Regions from separate parts of the Homo sapiens genome. Here region 2 is linked to region 1. The links come from fine-mapping of genetic effects on plasma protein levels. Region 1 holds a variant in brackets. A gene starts in the other region. All regions are shown on their forward strands.

Region 1 (9,604 bases):
CGGGACTTCCGGGATCTGAACAAGGATGGGCACCTGGATGGGAGTGAGGTGGGCCACTGGGTGCTGCCCCCTGCCCAGGACCAGCCCCTGGTGGAAGCCAACCACCTGCTGCACGAGAGCGACACGGACAAGGTGCAGTGACGGGGCCTCGGCAGGAGCGAGGAGCGGGTGGGCATTGCGGGCCAGACTCCAGAAAGGAGCAAGACCTGGGCCTGGAGCTCAGGGTCCCTTTTAGGTGGGATAAAAAAAGAGGGACAGAGAGAGGGAGGAAAAGAGAGGGCACGGAGCCCCAGAAAGAGAGGGGGACAGAGACCCAGAGACCCAAAGAGAGAAGGACAGGGACCAAGACGGGGACAGATTCAGAGAGAAAGGGACAGAGGCCCAGAGAACAAGGGTCCCAGAGACTTCGGGACACGCTTGGATGCAGGGAGGGCTTTTGAAAGCAGGGCCGTGTTGTCCCCTCTGAACCCTGACCCTCCCTCCAGGATGGGCGGCTGAGCAAAGCGGAAATCCTGGGTAATTGGAACATGTTTGTGGGCAGTCAGGCCACCAACTATGGCGAGGACCTGACCCGGCACCACGATGAGCTGTGAGCACCGCGCACCTGCCACAGCCTCAGAGGCCCGCACAATGACCGGAGGAGGGGCCGCTGTGGTCTGGCCCCCTCCCTGTCCAGGCCCCGCAGGAGGCAGATGCAGTCCCAGGCATCCTCCTGCCCCTGGGCTCTCAGGGACCCCCTGGGTCGGCTTCTGTCCCTGTCACACCCCCAACCCCAGGGAGGGGCTGTCATAGTCCCAGAGGATAAGCAATACCTATTTCTGACTGAGTCTCCCAGCCCAGACCCAGGGACCCTTGGCCCCAAGCTCAGCTCTAAGAACCGCCCCAACCCCTCCAGCTCCAAATCTGAGCCTCCACCACATAGACTGAAACTCCCCTGGCCCCAGCCCTCTCCTGCCTGGCCTGGCCTGGGACACCTCCTCTCTGCCAGGAGGCAATAAAAGCCAGCGCCGGGACCTTGTGTGTCTGTCTGTTGTCTGCCTGTCTCTATGAAGGGTAAGGGGGCCCTGGAGATGGTTTGGGGGCTGTGACTGGGAGTTGGGGGCTGAGACATGCAATAGGGGACCAGGCATTTGAAGGAGGGGTGCTGGGTGTTGGAGGGATTGGAGGGCGTTCCTCAGTATAAAACAAACAAACAAAAAAAATTGGGCCAGGCCCGGTGGCTCACGCCTGTAAGCCCAGCAATTTGGGAGGCTGAGGCGGGTAGATCACGAGGTCGGGGGTCCTAGACCAGCCTGGCCAACATGGTGAAACCCCGTCTCTACTAGAAATACAAAAATTAACCAGGCCTGGTGATGGGCACCTATAATCCCAGCTACTCTGGAGGCTGAAGCAGAATCGCTTGAACCCGGGAGGTGGAGGTTGTCGTGAGCCGAAATGGCGCCACTGCACTCCAGCCTGGGTGACAGAGGGAGACTCTGTCTCAAAAAAAAAAGGGAAAAAAAGCCTGGACTCTGCAGCGCACAAACCAGACAGGAAGCCCTGCCCTCTCAGAGCTCCAGTTCTGTAAGGAAGAGACACAGCGACCTAAAATATGGCACGGCGCAACAGATGCTGTGAAGCAGGGGAAGCGTGTAGCAGTGTGGCAATGTTCTGATGACTGAGAGGCTGGGAAAGGTCTCAATGGTAAATGGAGTGAAGGAGGGAGCCACGGAGAGATCTGGAGGGAGAGCATTCCAGGGAGAGAGAAGAGCAAGTAAAATGGCCCTGAGGCAGGAGTGGGCCTGGTGTGGCAGCATCAGCAAGGAGGCTAGAGTGGCTGGAAGGGAATGAGCCAGTGGAAGAGGGTCAGAGCTGAGAGCAGATGGGGCAAGTGGCCAGACTGTGCAGGCCCCTGCAGGCAGGTCATGGTGGTCCCTGTTTGGTGGCACAAGACAGGGATGGACAGAGACCCAGAGAGAAGGGGTGGGGAGTCAGAGAGAGAGGGACAGAGACCCAGAGAGAGAGGGGAACAGAGACCCAGAGAGAGAGGGACAGAGACCCAGAGAGAGAGGGGAACAGAGACCCAGAGAGAGAGGGGAACAGAGACCCAGAGAGAGAGAGGGGAACAGAGACCCAGAGAGAGGGAGACAGAAACTCAGAGAGAGGGAAACAGAGACCCAGAGAGTGGGGGACAGAGATCCAAAGAGAATGGGGATAGAGACCCAGAGAGACACAGAATTTATTCTGAGTGACATGAGAGTCGCTGGAGTGTCATGAGCAGAGGAGGGATTATAAACTGCTTTGAGTTATTTAAGAGTCGGGTTGGGCGCAGTGGTTCACGCCTGTAATCCCAAGGATTAATCAAGGATTGCTTGAGGCCAGGAGTTCAAGACCAGTCTGGGATGATCTTTTATAAAGATGGCATCTCTTTTTTTTTTTCTTTCTTTTTTTTTGAGACGGAGTCTCGCTCTGTCGCCCAGGCTGGAGTGCAGTGGCGCACTCTCACCTCACTGCAAGCTCCACCTCCCGGGCTCACGCCATTTATAGAGACCATATCTCTATTTAAAAATTAGTTTATGGCCGGGCACGGTGGTTCACGCCTGTAATCCCAGCTCTTTCAGAGGCCGAGGCAGGCAGATCACGAGGTCAGTAGATCGAGACCATCCTGGCTAACACGGTGAAACCCCGCCTCTACTAAAAAATACAAAAAATTAGCCAGGCATGGTGGCGGGCGCCTGTAGTCCCAGCTACTCGGGAGGCTGAGGCAGGAGAATGGCCTGAACCCGGGAGGCGGAGCTTGTAGTGAGCCGAGATCGCGCCACTGCACTCCAGCCTGGGAGACAGAGCGAGACTCTGTCTCAAAAAAAAAAATTAACTTACTAAAAAAATTAATTTACTAATTAATTTTTAAAAAGGAAATTCAAGAACAGGCAAAACTAATCTGGGGGTTAGAACTCAGGATGTTGTTCACCCTTGCGGGGGAGGGACCAGAATGGACCTCATGGGCTTCTTATCGGGAGAGGGAGGCTGGAAAATAGCCTATTCTTGATCTAGGTACTGCTTCCCAGGGGTGGTCAGATTATGAAAATTCATTCAGTTCTCCACATGTGATGTATGCCCTTTTATGCATGATAGAATTCAATTCAAAATTTACTTTTTTTTTTTTTTTTTTTTTGAGACAGAGTTTTGCTCTTGTTGCCCAGGCTGGAGTGCAATGGCACAATCTCGGCTCACTGCAACCTCCACCTCCCAGGTTCAAGCGATTCTCCTGCCTCAGCCTCCTGAGTAGCTGGGATTACAGGCATGCACCACCACGCCTGGCTAATTTTGTATTTTTAGTAGAGACAGGGTTTCTCCATGTTGGTCAGGCTGGTATCGAACTCCTGACCTCAGGTGATCCACCTGCCTCAGCCTCCCAAAGTGCTGGGATTACAGGCTTGAGCCATTGTGCCTGGCCGATAGCTATTTTTTTTTTTTTTTTTTTTTTTTTTTTTTGAGATGGAGTCTTGCTCTTGTCATCCTGGCTGGAGTGCAATGGCATGATCTTGACTCACTGCAACCTCCACCTCCCGGGCTGAAGTGATTCTCCTGTCTCAGCCTCCCGAGTAGCTGGGATTACTGGCATGGACCACCACGCCCGGCTAATTTTTGTATTTTTATTAGAGACGGGGTTTCACCATGTTGGCCAGGCTGGTCTCGAACTCCCGACCTCAGGTGATCCGCCCTCCCCGACCTCCCAAATTTCTGGGATCACAGGCATGAGCCACCGTGCCTGGCCAGTTCG[GT/G]TTTTTTTTTTAGGTTTACCTGGGCTTTTTGGAGTGTACCCATGCAGCCAGGTGTGGTTCAGGGTCAGCTAGATATTTGAGTAGAGTTGGGCCGTGTGCGGTGACTCACGCCTGTAATCCCAACACTTTGGGAGGCCGAGGCAGGCGGATCATGAGGTCAGGAGATCGAGAGCATCCTGGCTAACACGGTGAAACCCCGTCTCTACTAAAAATATTTAAAAAATTAGCCTGGGCGTGGTGTTGGGGGCCTGTAGTCCCAGCTACTCGGGAGGCTGAGGCAGGAGAATGGCGTGAACCCGGTAGGCGGAGTTTGCACCACTGCCCTCCAACCTGGGCGACAGAGGGAGACTCCGTCTCAAAAAAAAAAAAAAAAAAAAAAAAAAAAAAGATACTTGAGTAGAGTTTATAGAAACCATTCCAGGTACCCTCTCTCCAGCTTTTCTTTTCCAGGATTTATCTCCTCACCTTCCTTTTGCTGTAGTTCTTCAAGCTAGGAAGACTGGATTTCCCTCTGGTGTTTTAGCTGCCAGTCATGGTATGAACTAGAACTCACCCCCAAGTAAAAGCTGTACAAATAAGAAACTCGCCTTTCTTTTTTCTGAGTGTCAAGTTCCCTCCAGTTGCTCTGTCTGCTTTTGTTTACCTTCCAGTGCCTTGCCTTTGGGTAATTGTTTTCCACGTTTTTTCCAGGGTTTATAGCTGTTGTCTGTGTGGGAGGGCTGGAATTTGAATCCAAGCGCGTCTGACTCCAAGCGTTTTCGTATGATAACATACTGCCCTCTAGTGGCTGGATGTGGAGAACTGGTTTATGTGGGAGGAAGGGCATATTGGTAAATCTCTGAGGGCTGCATGTTTGGAAACATTGTTTATCGAAAACAATACCCACACATAGCAACAAATTACTTGCACAGAACAGTTTATGGTGAAAAACTGCCTAGCATCTTGTCACACTTACTGCTTCTCTCCAGAATTTTTTTAGTTTTAAAATATTCTTGCATATTTTATTTTAAAATAATGGCCATACTCTCACAGGATACAAAACCCGAAATATACAGGATGCTACAAGCTAAAAACAACGCCTTCCACTAAGTTCAACTCTTCACAGACAGCCAGTGTTTCCTACCATGGAGAATCTACACAGATTTAAGCAAATATGTACAAATAGTCTTTATTTTTTTTTGGAAGACGAATCTCGATTTGTCTCCCAGGCTGGAGTGCAGTGGTGCAATCTTGTCTCACTGCAACCTCCGCCTCCCAGGTTCAAGCGATACTCCTGCCTCAGCCTCCCGAGTAACTGGGATAACGGGCACGGGCCACCATGCCAGCTAATTTTTTGTGTGTTTTTTTGTTTTTTTGTTTTTTTTGAGACGGAGTCTCGCTCTGTCGCCCAGGCTGGAGTGCAGTGGCGCGATATCGGCTCACTGCAAGCTCCGCCTCCCGGGTTCACGCCATTCTCCTGCCTCAACCTCCCAAGTAGCTGGGACTACAAGCGCCCGCCACCACTGCCCGGCTAATTTTTTTGTTTTTTAGTAGAGACGAGTTTCACTGTGTTAGCCAGGATGGTCTCGATCTCCTGACCTCGTGATCCGCCCCACCTCGGCCTCCCAAAGTGCTGGGATTAGAGGGGTGAGCCACCGCGCCCAGCCATTTTTTGTATTCTTAATAGAGACGGAGTTTCGCCATGTTGGCCAGGCTGGTCTCGAACTCCTGATCTCAGGTGATCCGGCTGCCTCGGCCTCCCAAGTGCTGAGATTACAGGCGTGAACCACCATGTCTTGCTAATTTTTGTATTTTTAGCAGAGAGGGGGTTTCACCATGTTGGTCAGGCTGGTCTTGAACTCCTGACCTCGAGATCTGCCCTCCTCAGCCCCCCAAAGTGCTGGGATTACAGGTGTCACCCACCGCTTCCGGCCGCGTTTTTTGGTTTGTTTGTTTTGTGTGTGTGTTTTTTGTTTTGTTTTGTTTTGTTTTTTGAGATGGAGTCTTGCTGTGTCGCCCAGGCTGGAGAGCAGCGGCTCAATCTCAGCTCACTGCAACTTCCGCCTCCTGGGTTCAAGAGATTCTCCTGCCTCAGTCTTCCTAGTAGTTGAGATTACTGGTGCCGGCCACCGTGGCTGGCTACTTTTTGCGTTTTTAGTAGAGACAGGGTTTCACCATGTTCGCCAGGCTGGTCTCGAACTCCTGACCTCAGGTGATCCACCCACCTCAGCCTCCCAAAGTGCTGGGATTACAAGTATGAGCCACCACGCCTGGCCCTGGCCTGCGTTTTTTAAGACATAATCTTGCTCTGCCACCTAGGCCAGAGTACTGTGGCACTCCAGTTGCAGAGAGCCAACATTGTGCCATTGCACTCCACTGATCTCAGCTCACTGATCTCAGCCAGCTGCAAGCGATTCTCGTGCTTCAGCCTCCCTAGTAGCTGGGATTACAGGCGTGTAACACCACGCCCAGCTAATTTTTGTATTTTTAATAGAGATGGAGTTTCACCATGTTGTCCAGGCTGGTCTCAAACTCCTAAGCTCAAGCAATCTTCCTACCCCAGTCCCACAAAGTGCTGAAATCATGGGCAGGAGCCACTGCGCCCAGCCATTCTAGCTCGTGTTTTGCTGAGCATCGTCGCATGTCTTTGGGGTACACACACAGGAGTGAGGTAGTGGAGCACCGGCTAGGCGCATTTTTAGCGTTAATCGATATTGCCAATTCATTTCCCCAGTTTACGTGCCCACCAGCGTTGTAGACAAGTTCCAGTTTCTCCACATCCTGACCAACGCTTATTAGAATAAACTTTTGAACTGTTTTTGCTTTTAGTTCTTCCGTTGGTGACCTCCCCACTTGCAGATCAGCAGATCAAATCCCCATGCTGTTGACAACACGCTGGGAGCAAAGAGCCAGGTGGAGCTTCTAACGAAGTCAGATCTTCTGATATTTTAAAAGCTGAGATAAAATTCACAGGCCATAAAATTAACCCTTGGTCGGGCGTGGTGGCTACGCCTGTAATCCTAGCACTTCAGGAGGCCAAGGTGGGCAGATCACTTGAGGCCAGGAGTTCAAGACCAGCCTGGACAACATGACGAAACTCTATCTCTATTAAAAATACAAAAATTAGCCGGGCGTGGTGGCACATGCCTGTAATCCCAGCTACTCAGGAGGCTGGGACAAGAGAATCGATTGAACCCGGGAGGCGGAGGTTGCAGTGAGCCAAGATCGTGCCACTGCACTCCAGCCTGGGTGACAGAACCAGACTTTGTCTCAAAAAAAAAAAAAAAAAAAAAAAAAACCCACACCCCATCAGCAGTCACTATCCCCTCTCTCTCTGCACTCCCAGCCCCGGACAGCCACTAACTACTTTCTTTTGCTATGGATTTGCCTATTCTGGGCATCTCATTATAAATGCAATCGTACGTGTGACCTTTCGTGCTGGGCTTCTTTCAGCATGTTTTCCAGATCCATCCACACTGTAGCCCGTGTCAGGACGTCATTGCTTTTTTTTTTTTTTTTTTTTTTGAGATGGAGTCTCACTCTGTTGCCCAGGCTGGAGTGCAGTGGCGCGATCTCGGCTCACTGCAAGCTCCACTTCCCGGGTTCATGCCATTCTCCTGCCTCAGCCTGCCGAGTAGCTGGGACTACAGGTGCCCACCATCACACCCGGCTAATTTTTTGTATTTTTAGTAGAGATGGGGTTTCACCGTGTTAGCCAAGATGGTCTCGATCTCCTGACCTCATGATCTGCCCGTCTCGGCCTCCCGAAGTGCTGGGATTACAGGCATGAGCCACTGCGCCCGGCCCAACGTCATTCCTTTTTAGGGCTGAGTAATATTCCATGGCACGGGCTAGACCACATTTTGTCTCCACTCATCAGCTGACGGGCTTTTGGGTTGTTTCCACTTCTGGGCTATGGTGAATGGTGCTGTTAGGGTCATTCATGTGCATTTGTTTTGCCTCAGCCTCCCAAGTAGCTGGGATTAAAGGTGTCTGCCACCACGCCTGGCTAATTTTTGTATTTTTGGTAGAGATAGGGTTTCACCATGCTGGCCAGGCTGGTCTCGAACTCATGACCTCGTGATCCGCCCACCTCGGCCTCCCAGATCACGTACATATTTTTGTGTGGACCTGTTTTCAGTTTCTTGGGTAGATAACTAGGAGGGGAATTGTGAAGCTGATTTTTCCTTTTATACATGTCTCACTCTGTCACCCAGGCTGGAATACAGAGGTGGGATCACAGCTGGACCTCCTGGGCTCACACCATCTTCTGGCTTCGGTCTCCCATGCAGCTGGGACTACAGGTGGGCACCACCATGCCCAGCTAATGTATTCTTTTTTGTAGAGATGGGGTCTTGCTACAATGGCCAGGCTGGTCGCCAACTCCTGGGTTCAAGCAATCCTCCTGACTCGGCCTCCCAAAGTGTTGGGATTACAGGCGTGAACCACCTTGCTTGGGCTGATTTTTTTTTTTTAGATGGAGTCTCGCTCTGTCTCCAGGCTGCAATGCAGTGGCACGATCTCAGCTCACTGCAACCTCCACCTCCCAGGTTCAAGCGATTCTCCTGCCTCAGCCTCCCGAGTAGCTGGGACTACAGGCTGTGCCACCACGTCCAGTTAATTTTTGTATTTTTAGTAGAGACGGGGTTTCACCATGTTGGCCAGGATGGTCTCTATCTCTTGACCTAGTGATCCGCTCCCGCCTCAGCCCCCCAAAGTGCTGGGATTACAGGCGTGAGCCACCGCACCTGGCCATGCATTTCTCTTTAAAAAGAGAAATGGGGCCTGTAATCCCAGCACTTTGGGAGGCCGAGGCAGGTGGATCACTTGAGGTCAGGAGTTCAAGACCAGCCTGGCCAATGTGGTGAGATCCCTTCCCTACTTAAAAAATACAAAAATTATCCAGGCACAGTGGCTCACGCCTGTAATCTCAGCACTTTGGGAGGCCGAGGCGGGCGGATCACGAGGTCAAGAGTTCAAGATCAGCCTGGCCAACATAAGTGAAACCCCGTCTCTACTAAAAATACAAAAAAATTTAGCCGGGCGTGGTGGTGGGCGCCTGTAGTCTCAGTTCCGTGGGAGGCTGAGGCAGGAGAATTGCTTGAACCCAGGAGGCAGAGGTTGCAGTGAGCCGAAATCAGGCCACTGCACTCCAGCCTGGGCGACAGGGCGAGACTCCGTCTCAAAAACAAAAAAAGAGAAATGGAAATCTAGTTTTTCACATGAAATCTCCCAGCTCCTTTTTTGCATTTGAAAACTTCATACAGTAAAATCCACTCCTTTTGGTGAACAGTTCTGAATTCTGATAAACCAGAGTCATGTAACCACCACAGTCAAAATCCGGAACTGTTCCTTCACACCCCCCCAGAATCTCTCTTGCTACTCCCCACTTTGGGGTCAACTCCTTCCCCTACTCTGGCAACGAAAGCTTTGTTCCTGGTTCGTATAGTTTTGCCTTTGCAGTGTCAGAATAAATCTTCCTGTTTTTATTTTCTATTGTTTTGATATGGGGTCTCGCTCTGTAGCTCAGACTGGAGTGCAGTGGTGCTATCGCAGCTCACTGCAGCCTCCACCTCCTGGGTTCAAGCGATTCTCCTGCCTCAGCCTCCTGAGTAGCTGGGATTACAGGGGTGCTCCACCACACCCAGCTAATTTTTGTATTTTTAGTAGAGACAGGGATTCACCATGTGGACCAGGCTGGTCTCCAACTCCTGACCTGAGGCAATCCACCTGCTTTGGCCTCCCAAAGTGCTGGGATTACAGGTGTGAGCTACCAGGCCCAGCCATCTTCCTGTTTTTAATTTTTTTTTTGAGATGGAGTTTTGCTCATGCTGCCCAGGCTGGAGTGCAGTGGTGCGATC
Region 2 (9,941 bases), not on the chromosome of region 1:
CCAGTGGGCCTGGCCCGGGGCACGCTGCACGTCACACACTTCGTAGGTGCGCACGCTGTGCTGTTCCTCATCCAGGCCGCTCAGTTCCTCCCACTGTGCAGAGAAGGAGGTCAGCAAGGGGGCTGGGGAGCCGCCAGGGAGAGGGCTGCATGGGGTGAATCCTATAAAGTGAGAGGGACTGAGAAAGGGGGGCTGCTGGTACTGCGAGGAGGGCGCCTCTGAGAAGGGCTCAGACGACACTGCTGGGGCTGCTGTCATCTGGGGGGACAGGGGAGAGGAGTGGCACACAGAAAGCAGGCGGCACAGGCGCCCTCTCCTCCCTCAGTTTCCCTCCAGAGCTCCAGCTCCTGGGTGCAGCTCTCACCTGCCCGTCCACCTGAGGGAATGTCACCCACTTCAGATCAGCAGTTTCCAATTTTGTGTTCAGCAGGGTCTCTGAGACAGACAGAGAGACAGAGTCAGTGCCTGGGGTGGGGGAGGGAGGTCAGGAAGACCAGATCCCTGGGAACCGAGGCAGGTGGATCCTCTTAGCTCTGAGCTAGAGGAGTTGGGGGGCCAAGAGGGGAGCAAGCCCTGCCCTCTGCACCCGCCTGATTTCTGGCCTCTTCTGCTAAGTGCCAACCCCACCCCCAACATCTGGTAGGCATGGGGCTCCCTTGGGATACCCCAGATCTAGGCCTCCCTGGAGGAGGGAGGGAGATCAAAATGTACGGGGAGAAGGGGCGGCAGCTCAGAAAGGGTTAAAATGAGAGCTGCGCCCTGGTCCTGACCCCCACGAGCAGAGGCTGCTGGTGTGGGAGGGGAACCTCTTGTCTCAGCCTCCACGTTTCCTCCCCTAAGTCCCAGAATCAGCCTCTCTACCCCACAATTTCATTCCCTGTCCAAGACCCCTCTCTGCTTTCAGACCAAACACCCCGTCCTTCCCTCCTTGAAGGGAGCGCTCCGTGCCTGGGGCATAGCCCTGGCCCCCATCCCAGTACCTCCCTCCCCACGAGTGCCCTGATCAGGAAGCACTGGAGGTCGGGATGCTAGGGTTCCCAGGCTCCCGCCGAGGCCTCACATCTGGATTTGGTTATGGGAAGGCAGAGGGGAGGAGATTCTGGGGGGCGGTATGAATGGGAGGGGTGAACACACCTGGCTTGGCTCGGATCATCGGGGGAGGGGACAGGCACTGGAGGAAGGGGGGGGATTAGGAAAAACTGCACAGCCCCTGGCAGTGGAGAGTGGAGGAGGGAGGGTACAGGAATCCCCTCGGGGGCCGGCAATGTGGGGGGCATTGGGCGCTGGGAAGGGTGGAGAGGGGAGCCAGAACACCTGGCTCCCACCCCATGGGAGCTGCAGGAGAGAAGAGAAAGAGGGTGGGTGAGGCAGCCTCTTCCTGGGGACCAAATGATGTCCTCCAGCTAGGGGTCAGATGGGAAGCCAGCCAGCCTGAGGTGAGAGGCGCAAGGTCCCCATGGGTGGCAAGAGACAGCCCTGCTCACTGGGGACAGGATGCCCGGGTTCTGGGAAGGGGGTGGATAGAGGCTGCCGTCTCCACCCTCCATTGTTCCAGCCGGGATAGTGTTTTCCTGTCTCCAATTTACACACTGTCTCTGCCTCGGGCTGTCCGCAGCCCAGAGCAAGCGCAGGCTCCCTTTCTGCGTCCCAGCTCAGCTGCAGCCACGCTTTGATCTGTCAGTTCGCATGTCTCTCACCTATCTCTCCTCCACTCTCTGTCCACCTCCGTTTCTCTTTCTGACAGTCACTATCTCTCCTTCGCTTTCGGCCTCCACTTCTCGCTGTTCCTCGCGGCACAGGGCCTTGGATAAACTACTTAACCTTAACTAAGCCCCAGCCTCCTCATCTGAAAAATGGGGGCAATAATAGCACCACCCTTAGCGTTGCTGGATGGGTGAAATTAATATTTGTAAGGCGCTCAGCACAGGCCTGGTGCTTGGAAACACTCAGGTAATAGGTGTCACAATCACCATTTCCTCTTTGCGTCTTTCCTTCTCACCACACCTCGTCCTCGTGGTTTTTCCACCCCTTTGGCCTTCCTCTTCCCCTCGTTCATGGTTTTTGTTCCCCCTTCTCCGTTCTCTGAGCTGGGCAAGCCTCCCCTCACTCCCAACCCCACACCTAGCCTTTGATCCCCAGCCCAGGGCAGTCCTGCCCAGCCAGGGGGAGAGGGTTTTTCTAACGCCGCTGAATCCTTCCCTTTGGGAGTCCCTCATAGCCTACCGCCCCATAACCACTTTCATACCAGACAGAGAAAGGGGGGTGTTGGCAGCTCACTGAAAGGACATTAGGGACACAGGAGAGTTTCTAGGGCTCTTGGCTCCCCCTTTAGGGGACCAGGAGGGACAGCGATCCATGGCCAAAGAAATGCTTGGAGAGACCAGGAGGTGGGAGATAGACTGGGTTAGTTAGGGCGATGTGGGGGCTGTGTAGGTCAGTTTCTACCTGGGGGCTGTGTAGGTCAGTTTCTACCCGCTCCTAGGTCTCAAGGGAAGCCCGGGACTCACCTGGGGCCGGGGTCTAGACCGCATTTAAAGGGATGGGGTGCAGCCTGTAGAAACCAAGGAGCCACCCTATACCAGGGGCAGGAGCAGTGGGCGGGAGAGCGGTTTGGGGGTTTGCTGTGTGAATGCAAAGGAGGCCATCCTGTTGCAGGAGTGTGGAACTGGAGGATCAAGGTGTGATCGCTAAGGAATTGGCGCTGGGGGTCGTTTTAGGGCCTAGCACGAAAAGTTGTGCCTTGTCTGCTGTTGCTTCTCCAGAAACCTTCCCTCATGTACGGCGGGAGGTGGGACTGGGACAGAAACTTTGCAGATAGTTTTGAATAGTGGGGTAGGGAGGAAAGGAAAGGCAGCCAGGGGCGTATGTAATCAGCAGTGAGAGTTCGGGGAGCCCGGGCAGGGGAATGTCCCGGGTCGTAGCCAGACTCCATCTCTTTCCCAAACAAAAGAAAACTCCACTACCCGTCGGGCGCCTCTTCCCCGCCCCCCTCCCGTTCCAGCACTATCGGTCCGAAGTGTTTGGGACTGCAGTGCCCGGGTAGGGGTAGTCAGAGGCCGGCCCCTCCACTCCGAGGCCCAGATGTTGGGGGGGAGGTCCCAGGAGTGACGGGGTGCGCCCCCCCCCGCAAGGAAACTCACCTTCCAAAGCTGCGGCCAACGAAGCCCAGCAGAGCAGCACCCGGAGCTCCATGGCGCCGCCTCACTCGGGTAGGATCCGAACTGAGTTTGGGGGGCCCTCGCCCCCCCAGGTCTGACTCTCCCTGGGCGGGTGGACGCCGATACTCCGCGCGGGACTCCTCGTCGGGGCCCTCAGCGCGGGCCCATGCGAGCGTGCGGGGCACCGGGCGGCGGCGCCAAGTGTGGCCCCGCGTCTGTGCCGCGCGCGCGGGCGGCGGGCCCGGAGCGTGCTGGCAGTGGCCGCGCCGGGCGGGCGCGCAGCAAGACGTGGCTGGAGTTGGGGTCCCTCCGGGGCCTCGGGGTCCCGCCCCGGGTGGCGGGGGCTGAGCCGGCCGCTCGCGGTCTCCCCCCCTCCCTGGAGTGGCTCTGCTCGCGCCGCCGGGCCGAGTGCTCTCCTCGCGGGCGGGGATGGTGGGAGCCCGAGCGGGGACGGAGCGGGAGGGAGGGAGACTGCGGCGCGGAGCCGGGCGGGCCGGGCCGGGCAGGGGCTGAGCTGCGCTGGAACTGGGCCGGGCGGCGCCGGGCCCGGGAGGGAGGGGCGCGCGGGGGGCGGGGGCAGCTCTCCCAACGCGGGGGCTCCGCGAGTGAGCCCCGGGCGCGCTGATTGGAGCTCACGCTACTGAATAATTCATGAGGGAAGCGGAGAGGGGCACCGAGTGGAGCAGGTCGGGAAGTTGAGAGAAAGTTTGGAGAAGGGGGAGGGGCGGCGGGTGAGGAACCCCGGGACCGCCCAGATGTGCGCCGTGGCGGTGCGCGCTGTCCAGGACCGAGCATGTCGGGGCTGGGGCCCAGGGACCCCCGGGACAGGCCCGAACCCGGCTGGCACCAGGGAGCAGAGAAAACACACACCCAGCAGCAACACGGAGGGCCGCCCAGGCGTGCACGTAAATGTTCACCGCGCACACAAAGCCCGCTCTGACCTTGCTGCGGACTCTAGATGCCGCTCTTGGATGCGCCCACCACCCTCTAGTGGGCGCAGGGACTGCGTTTTGGGGGAAAAGGAAGGAAAAGGGAGTAGAAGCTTTGGAGAATTGACGGCCGCCCAGGGGGCCTCAAGGAGCAATCCCAGTTTGGATAGCCTTGCAGCGAACGTTCACACAGTCACCCCATAAACATTCAGTGTTGGGGACCTACTGTGCGCGCAACCAAGCCCTGAAAAATGTCCAGAGGAGGCGCGCACTAAGCTGCGCTAGGGAGTAGAGAAAAATCGAGGAAACAACGGTAAAGAAAAGGTGGGTGTGGCGGGCGCGGTGGCTCACGCCTGTAGTCCCAGCATTTTGGGAGGCAGAGGCAGGCGGATCATTTGAGGTCAGGAGTTCAAGACCAGCCTGGCCAACATGATGAAACCCCGTCTCTACTAAAAATACAAAAATTAGCTGGGCATGGTGGCGCGCGCCTGTAATCCTAGCTACTCGGGAGGCTGAGGCAGGAGAATTGCTTGAACCGGGACCTAGGAGGCGGAGGTTGCAGTGAGCTGGGAGCTGAGATCGCGCCACTGCACTCCAGCCTGGGCTACAGAGTGAGACGAAATCTCAAAAAAAAAAAAAAAAAAAAAAAAGGTGGGTGTGTCCGAGAGGGTGAGGGGTCCGGCTAGATCTCCAAATCGCCCTTCTCACTCTCACTCTCGTGTTTTGGGGGGGCTTCCCCGCCGCCCGCAGCCATGACCCCTGAGGCTGGGGCTGCGGCTGCGGCTGCTGTCTTTCCTGAGCTGTTTCCTGTCTGGCTCCTGGGGGCCCTCGGGATGGCTGGGAGGGGCCCTTCCTCTCACTGCCAACTCCCCTCACCCTCCCATCAGTTAGCGGGGAGGGTCCAGCACAGCCGTGCTCCTCCCACCAACCCCCTTCTACTTCAGGGAACTTAACAGTATGGGTTACTGGATAGATGGATTGGAGGGGGTGCTGCTCCAGGAGTCAGCCCCTCCAAGGGGCAGAAGGAAAGGACTTAGACTCCCACAGTAATTAGCGGGGACAGATTTTTTTTTTTTTTTTGAGACAGAGTCTCCCTCTATTTCCCAGGCTGGAGTGCAGTGGCGTGATCTGGGCTCACTGCAACCTCCGCCTCCCAGGTTCAAGCGATTCTCCTGCCTCAGCCTCCCGAGTAGCTGGGATTACAGGCACAGGGCACCAACCCCGGCTAGTTTTCGTATTTTTAGTAGAGACAGGGTTTCGCCATGTTGGCCAGGCTGGTCTCGAACTCCTGACCTAAAGTGATCCACCCACCTTGGCCTCCCAAAGTGCTGGGATTACAGACGTTAGCCACCGCGCCCAGCCGGAGGACAGAATCTTGAGGAGCCCAGCAAGAGAGACGTTGGAGCCCAGCAAGAGAGACGTTGGAGTCCAGGATGCTTGGGGGGCTGCCAAGCGCCCTTACGTCCCAGAAAGGACAGCCGGGCCTGTGATAACCTCTTGTCCCGGCTTACTTATCTTCCTGCTGCAAGAGGTGTTCCCCACACCCCTGCCCTTCCTTGCTGTTCTGCCTGGGTCCTGCGCCCGGGTTGGGGGGGGTGGGCCGGTCACCGAGGGCAGGAAACAGCCGGCTTCACTGGAGCCAGGCAGACCAGGCTGGAGCTGGGAATTCCCTCCTCCCTCCCCGATGCAGGCCCAGTCTCCCCTTCTCTTATTCAGCTTCTCCCTCGGGGTTCTCTGCAACCCTCTCCCAAACCCCTGCCCTGCCTTTTGCCACTCTCACTCTGTACCCAGATCCTGTAGCCTCTAAAAGTTATGTCTTCTGGCTGGGGACAGTAGCTCAGGTCTGTAATCTCAGCATTTTGGGAGGCCGAGGCGGGTGGATCACTTGAGCCCAAGAGTTCGAGACCAGCCTAGCCAACATGGTGAAACCCCTCTCTACTAAAAATACAAAAATCAGCTGGGCATCATGGCACACACCTGTAGTCCCAGCTACTAGGGAGGCTGAGGCACGAGAATCGCTTGAACCCGGGAGGCAGAAGTTGCAGTGAGCAGAGATTGCACCACTGCACTCCAGCCTGGGCAACAGAGCCACACTCTGTCTCCAAAAAATATATAAAGTAAATAAATAAGTAAATAAATAAATAGGCTGGGCGCAGTGGCTCACACCTGTAATCCCAGCACTTTGGGAGGCCGAGGCAGGCGGATCACCTGAGGTCAGGAGTTCGAGACCAGCCTGGCCAACATAGTGAAACCCCTTCTCTACTGAAAATACAAAACTTAGCCAGGTGTGGTGGTGCAGGCCTGCAGTCCCAGCTACTCGGGAGGCTGAGACAGGAGAATTGCTTGAACCCTGGGAGGCAGAGGTTGCAGTGAGCTGAAATCGTGCCACTGCACTCCAGCCTGGGCAACAGAGTGAAACTCTGTCTCAAAACATAAATTAATTAAACAATAGAAAACACTCATCTTAGTGGGGCACAGTGACTCATACCTGTAATGCCAGCACTTTTGGAGGCTGAGATGAGAGGATCGTTTCAGTCCAGGAGTTTGAGGGCAGCCTGAACAACATAGCGAGACCCTGTCTACAAAAAAAGAAAGAAAGAAAGAGAGAAAACATTCTATTCCATGTCAGGTCATCAGCCCACACCCCACACCAGGCAGTAATCTATTTTCTACCATCTAGTGTATGCCAGTCAAAGAATGAAAAAATGAAATCTTTACTGAGCATCTACTACGTGCCGAGTGATCACATTGCTAGTTTTCAAGATTTGTAAAACATGGTTCCTGGCCTCAAAGAGAATCTGGTAAAAATTAATATAGTTTTATGTCATCTGGTGAATTACAACCTGGTAGAAAAAAAATCCCATGATTTCCCCTTTACGTGGAGATGGCATCTGAGATTTTCACTTCAATTCTCAGGAACCACCCTTGGTCTATCCTGTGTGTGTGAAGTCATGTCCTCCACCCTTAGACCACCCAGAACCACTTCCCAGGCAAGCAAATTCAGTAGCCACTAAATTACAGAACGTGGGTGAACATTCACGTTACTACCTGAATCCATGCCTGTTCTGCAGACCAAACCAAACTCAGCCCTCCCTTCCTCATTATTAGAGCACTTTGCTGTTCCCTACCCAAAATATTAGGCTGTCACCTTTGTTCCCAGCCCAGAGCAATATACTGCTATCACACGGTGCATTGTCGGTACTTGCGCATAGCATCCACCAACAGCTACTGGAGTTTTCTTTTTCTTTTCTTTTGTATTTTATTTTATTTTATTTTTGGAGACGGCGTTTCACTCTTGTTGCCCAGGCTGGAGTGCAAAGGTGCGATCTCGGCTCACCACAACCTCTGCCTCCTGGGTTCAAGTGATTCTCCCGCCTCAGCCTCCCAGGTAGCTGGGATTACAGGCATATGCCACCACACCGGGCTAATTTTGTATTTTTAGTAGACGCGGGGTTTCTCCATGTTGGTCAGGCTGGTCTGGAACTCCTGACCTAAGGTGATCCACCTGCCTTGGCCTCCCAAAGTGCTGGGATTACAGGCGTGAGCCACTGCACGTGGCTCTTTTTTTTAGAGATAGGGTCTTACTGTATTGCCCAGGCTGGAGTGCAGTGGCACGGTCATGGCTCACTGCAGCCTTGACCTCCTGGGCTCGAGCAATCTTTCCTCAGCCTCCTGAGGAGCTGGGACCCCGCGCGGGGACCATGCCCGGCTAATAAGTTTACTTTTTCTTGTACAGATTGTGACAGTTGTTTTGAGTAATCCTGGAGTTACAGCTTTTCCTATTGTAAGAAATAACAAGCAGCAAATCACCCCTTTCTCCGTAAATTGTTGAACTTCTCATTACTCTTTCCACATCTCAGTCTCCCCTCTTCTGGGCCACCTAACTGTGTCGGGTCCAAAGTTCAGGTTTACCCCAAAGTTCATGAAGTTTAAGCTTCAGCACCTCTCACCTGCCTGGCTTCTTCCACGGCCCTGGTTAATAAGTGCCATAATTTAAACAGTTTTGAAGGTGAGTTTCAGCAGGACAACACTTGAAATGACCTGAAATCTTACAGCTCTGTTACAAAAGGAATTTGATAGAGTTTTCAACATTACCAATAGAGTTGTAAAGCTCAAATAAATTTTTATAAACAATGATGAAACCTTAAAAACTTAGCCAGGCTACTCGGGAGGCTGAGGCAGGAGAATCACTTGAACTTGGGAGGCGGAGGTTGCAGTGAGCCGAGATCGCGCCACTGCACTCCAGCCTGGCAACAGAGCGAGACTCCGTCCCACTCCCACCAAAAAAAAATAACTTAGCCAGGCACTGTGGCTCACACCTGTAATTCCAGCACTTTGGGAAGCCAAGGCAGGAGGATTGCTTGAGTCCTGGAGTTTGAGACCGGCCTGGGCAACAAAGTGAGACCCCTGTCTCTACCAGAAAATAAAAAATAAAAAATAGCTGGGCGTGGTGGCATGTGGCTATGGTCTCTCAGACACTGGGGAGGCCGAGGTGGGAGGATCACTGAGCCTGAGAGGTCTAGGCTGCAGGGAGCCGTGATGGCACCACTGCACTCCAACCTGGGCAACAGAGCGAGACCCCATCTCTAAGCAAAAATTAATCAGCCATCCTAGAGGAAAGACAGAGAAAGAATAGAAAATAATATTACAAAATCATCATATGAAGAGATGGTCAAAGAGTACACATCTAAGAAAAAGGTAGTAAATGCAAGTATTCCAGGGCTATATCAGTCTTCTTTACTATAAATGTTGTTATTTTTCTAGCTTGTATAATATTTATGATATTTGTCATATTTTAAACATTTGAGGTCAGCTGTGATTTCTTCTCTCAATCCAAAGATTTTATACCTTTTTTTTTCTTTTTTTAAGAGACAGGGTCTCCCTTTGTCACCCATGCTGGAGTGCAGTGGCACGATCGAGGCTCACTGCAGCCTCGAACTCCCAGGCTCAAGCGATCCTCCTGCCTCAGCCTCCCAAGTAGCTGAGACTACAGGCGTGTGCCACCATGCCTAGCTAATATTTTTAGTGTTTGTACAGACAGGGTCTCACTATGTTGCGCAGGCTGGTCTTGAACTCTTGAGCTCAAGTGATTGTCTAGCCTCAGCCTCCCAAAGTCCTATGATTACAGGTGTGATCCACTGCACCTGGCCTGGCTAATTTATTTTATTTTATTTTTATTTTTTGTAGACATGAGGTCTTGCTATGTTGTCCAGGCTGGTCTCAAACTCCTACCTAATTCTAGCACTGTGTGAGGCCAAAAAAAAAGTTGAAAAAAAGGCTGGGCGCAGTGGCTCACACCTGTAATCTTAGCACTTTGGGAGGCCGAGGCGGGTGGATCACCTGAGGTTGGGAGTTCAAGACCTGCCTGGCCCGTCTCTACTAAAAATAGAAAAATTAGCCAGTTACAGTGGCACACGCCTGTAATCCCAGCTACTCAGGAGGCTGAGGCACGAGAATTGCTTGAATCCAGGAGGCAGAGGTTGCAGTGAGCCAAGATTGTACCACTGCACTCCAGGCTGGGTGACAGAGCGAGACTCTGTCTCAAAGCAAAGCAAAACAAAACAAAAAGCAAAAAAACAAAACAAAACAAAAAAAAACAGACAAGGTATGGTGGCTCATGCCTGTAATCCCAGCACTTTGGGAGGCCGAGGTGGGAGGATCACTTGAGCCCAGGAGTTCCAGGCCAGCCTGGGCAACATAGTGAGACCCCAGCTCTAAAGAAAAAATAGCTGGGTGTGGTGGCTCACACCTATAATCCCAGCACTTTGGGAGGCTGAGGTGGGCGGATCACGAAGTCAGGAGATCGAGACAATCCTGGCTAACATGGTGAAACCCCATCTCTACTAAAAATACA

Which allele goes with the higher level. Positions count from the first base shown, and alleles are read on the strand shown. Strength reflects both the effect of a copy and how common the allele is.
For the plasma level of the protein whose gene starts at base 3,685 in region 2, GT is the low allele of the variant in region 1 and G is the other (weak association).

The links. A credible set is the group of variants that fine-mapping cannot tell apart. PIP is the posterior inclusion probability: the model's chance that the variant is causal. The UK Biobank Pharma Proteomics Project read protein levels with antibody pairs (Olink). The fine-mapping took linkage between variants from a reference panel, not from the people measured, so its PIPs are less certain.
Region 2: it holds the start of EPHB4, and the variant in region 1 is the best candidate, but not a certain one, in a credible set for the plasma level of the EPHB4 protein (UK Biobank, PIP 0.51).

The regions. Positions count from the first base shown.
Region 1 is chr19:49,542,621-49,552,224 of GRCh38, forward strand. It overlaps RCN3 (reticulocalbin 3), which reads left to right. Exons shown (of 7, transcript NM_020650.3): 6 at 1-132; 7 at 486-1,013. The coding sequence ends at 593. Among named protein-coding and RNA genes, the nearest start is that of RCN3, 19 kb to the left of the region's middle. The variant GT/G (reference allele first, on the strand shown) is at 3,764.
Region 2 is chr7:100,823,839-100,833,779 of GRCh38, forward strand. EPHB4 (EPH receptor B4) reads right to left here and starts at 3,685. Exons shown (of 17, transcript NM_004444.5): 1 at 3,141-3,685; 2 at 365-435; 3 at 1-93. The coding sequence starts at 3,192. It also overlaps a transcript of SLC12A9 not described here. RefSeq lists enhancers at 3,689-4,484, 5,281-6,076.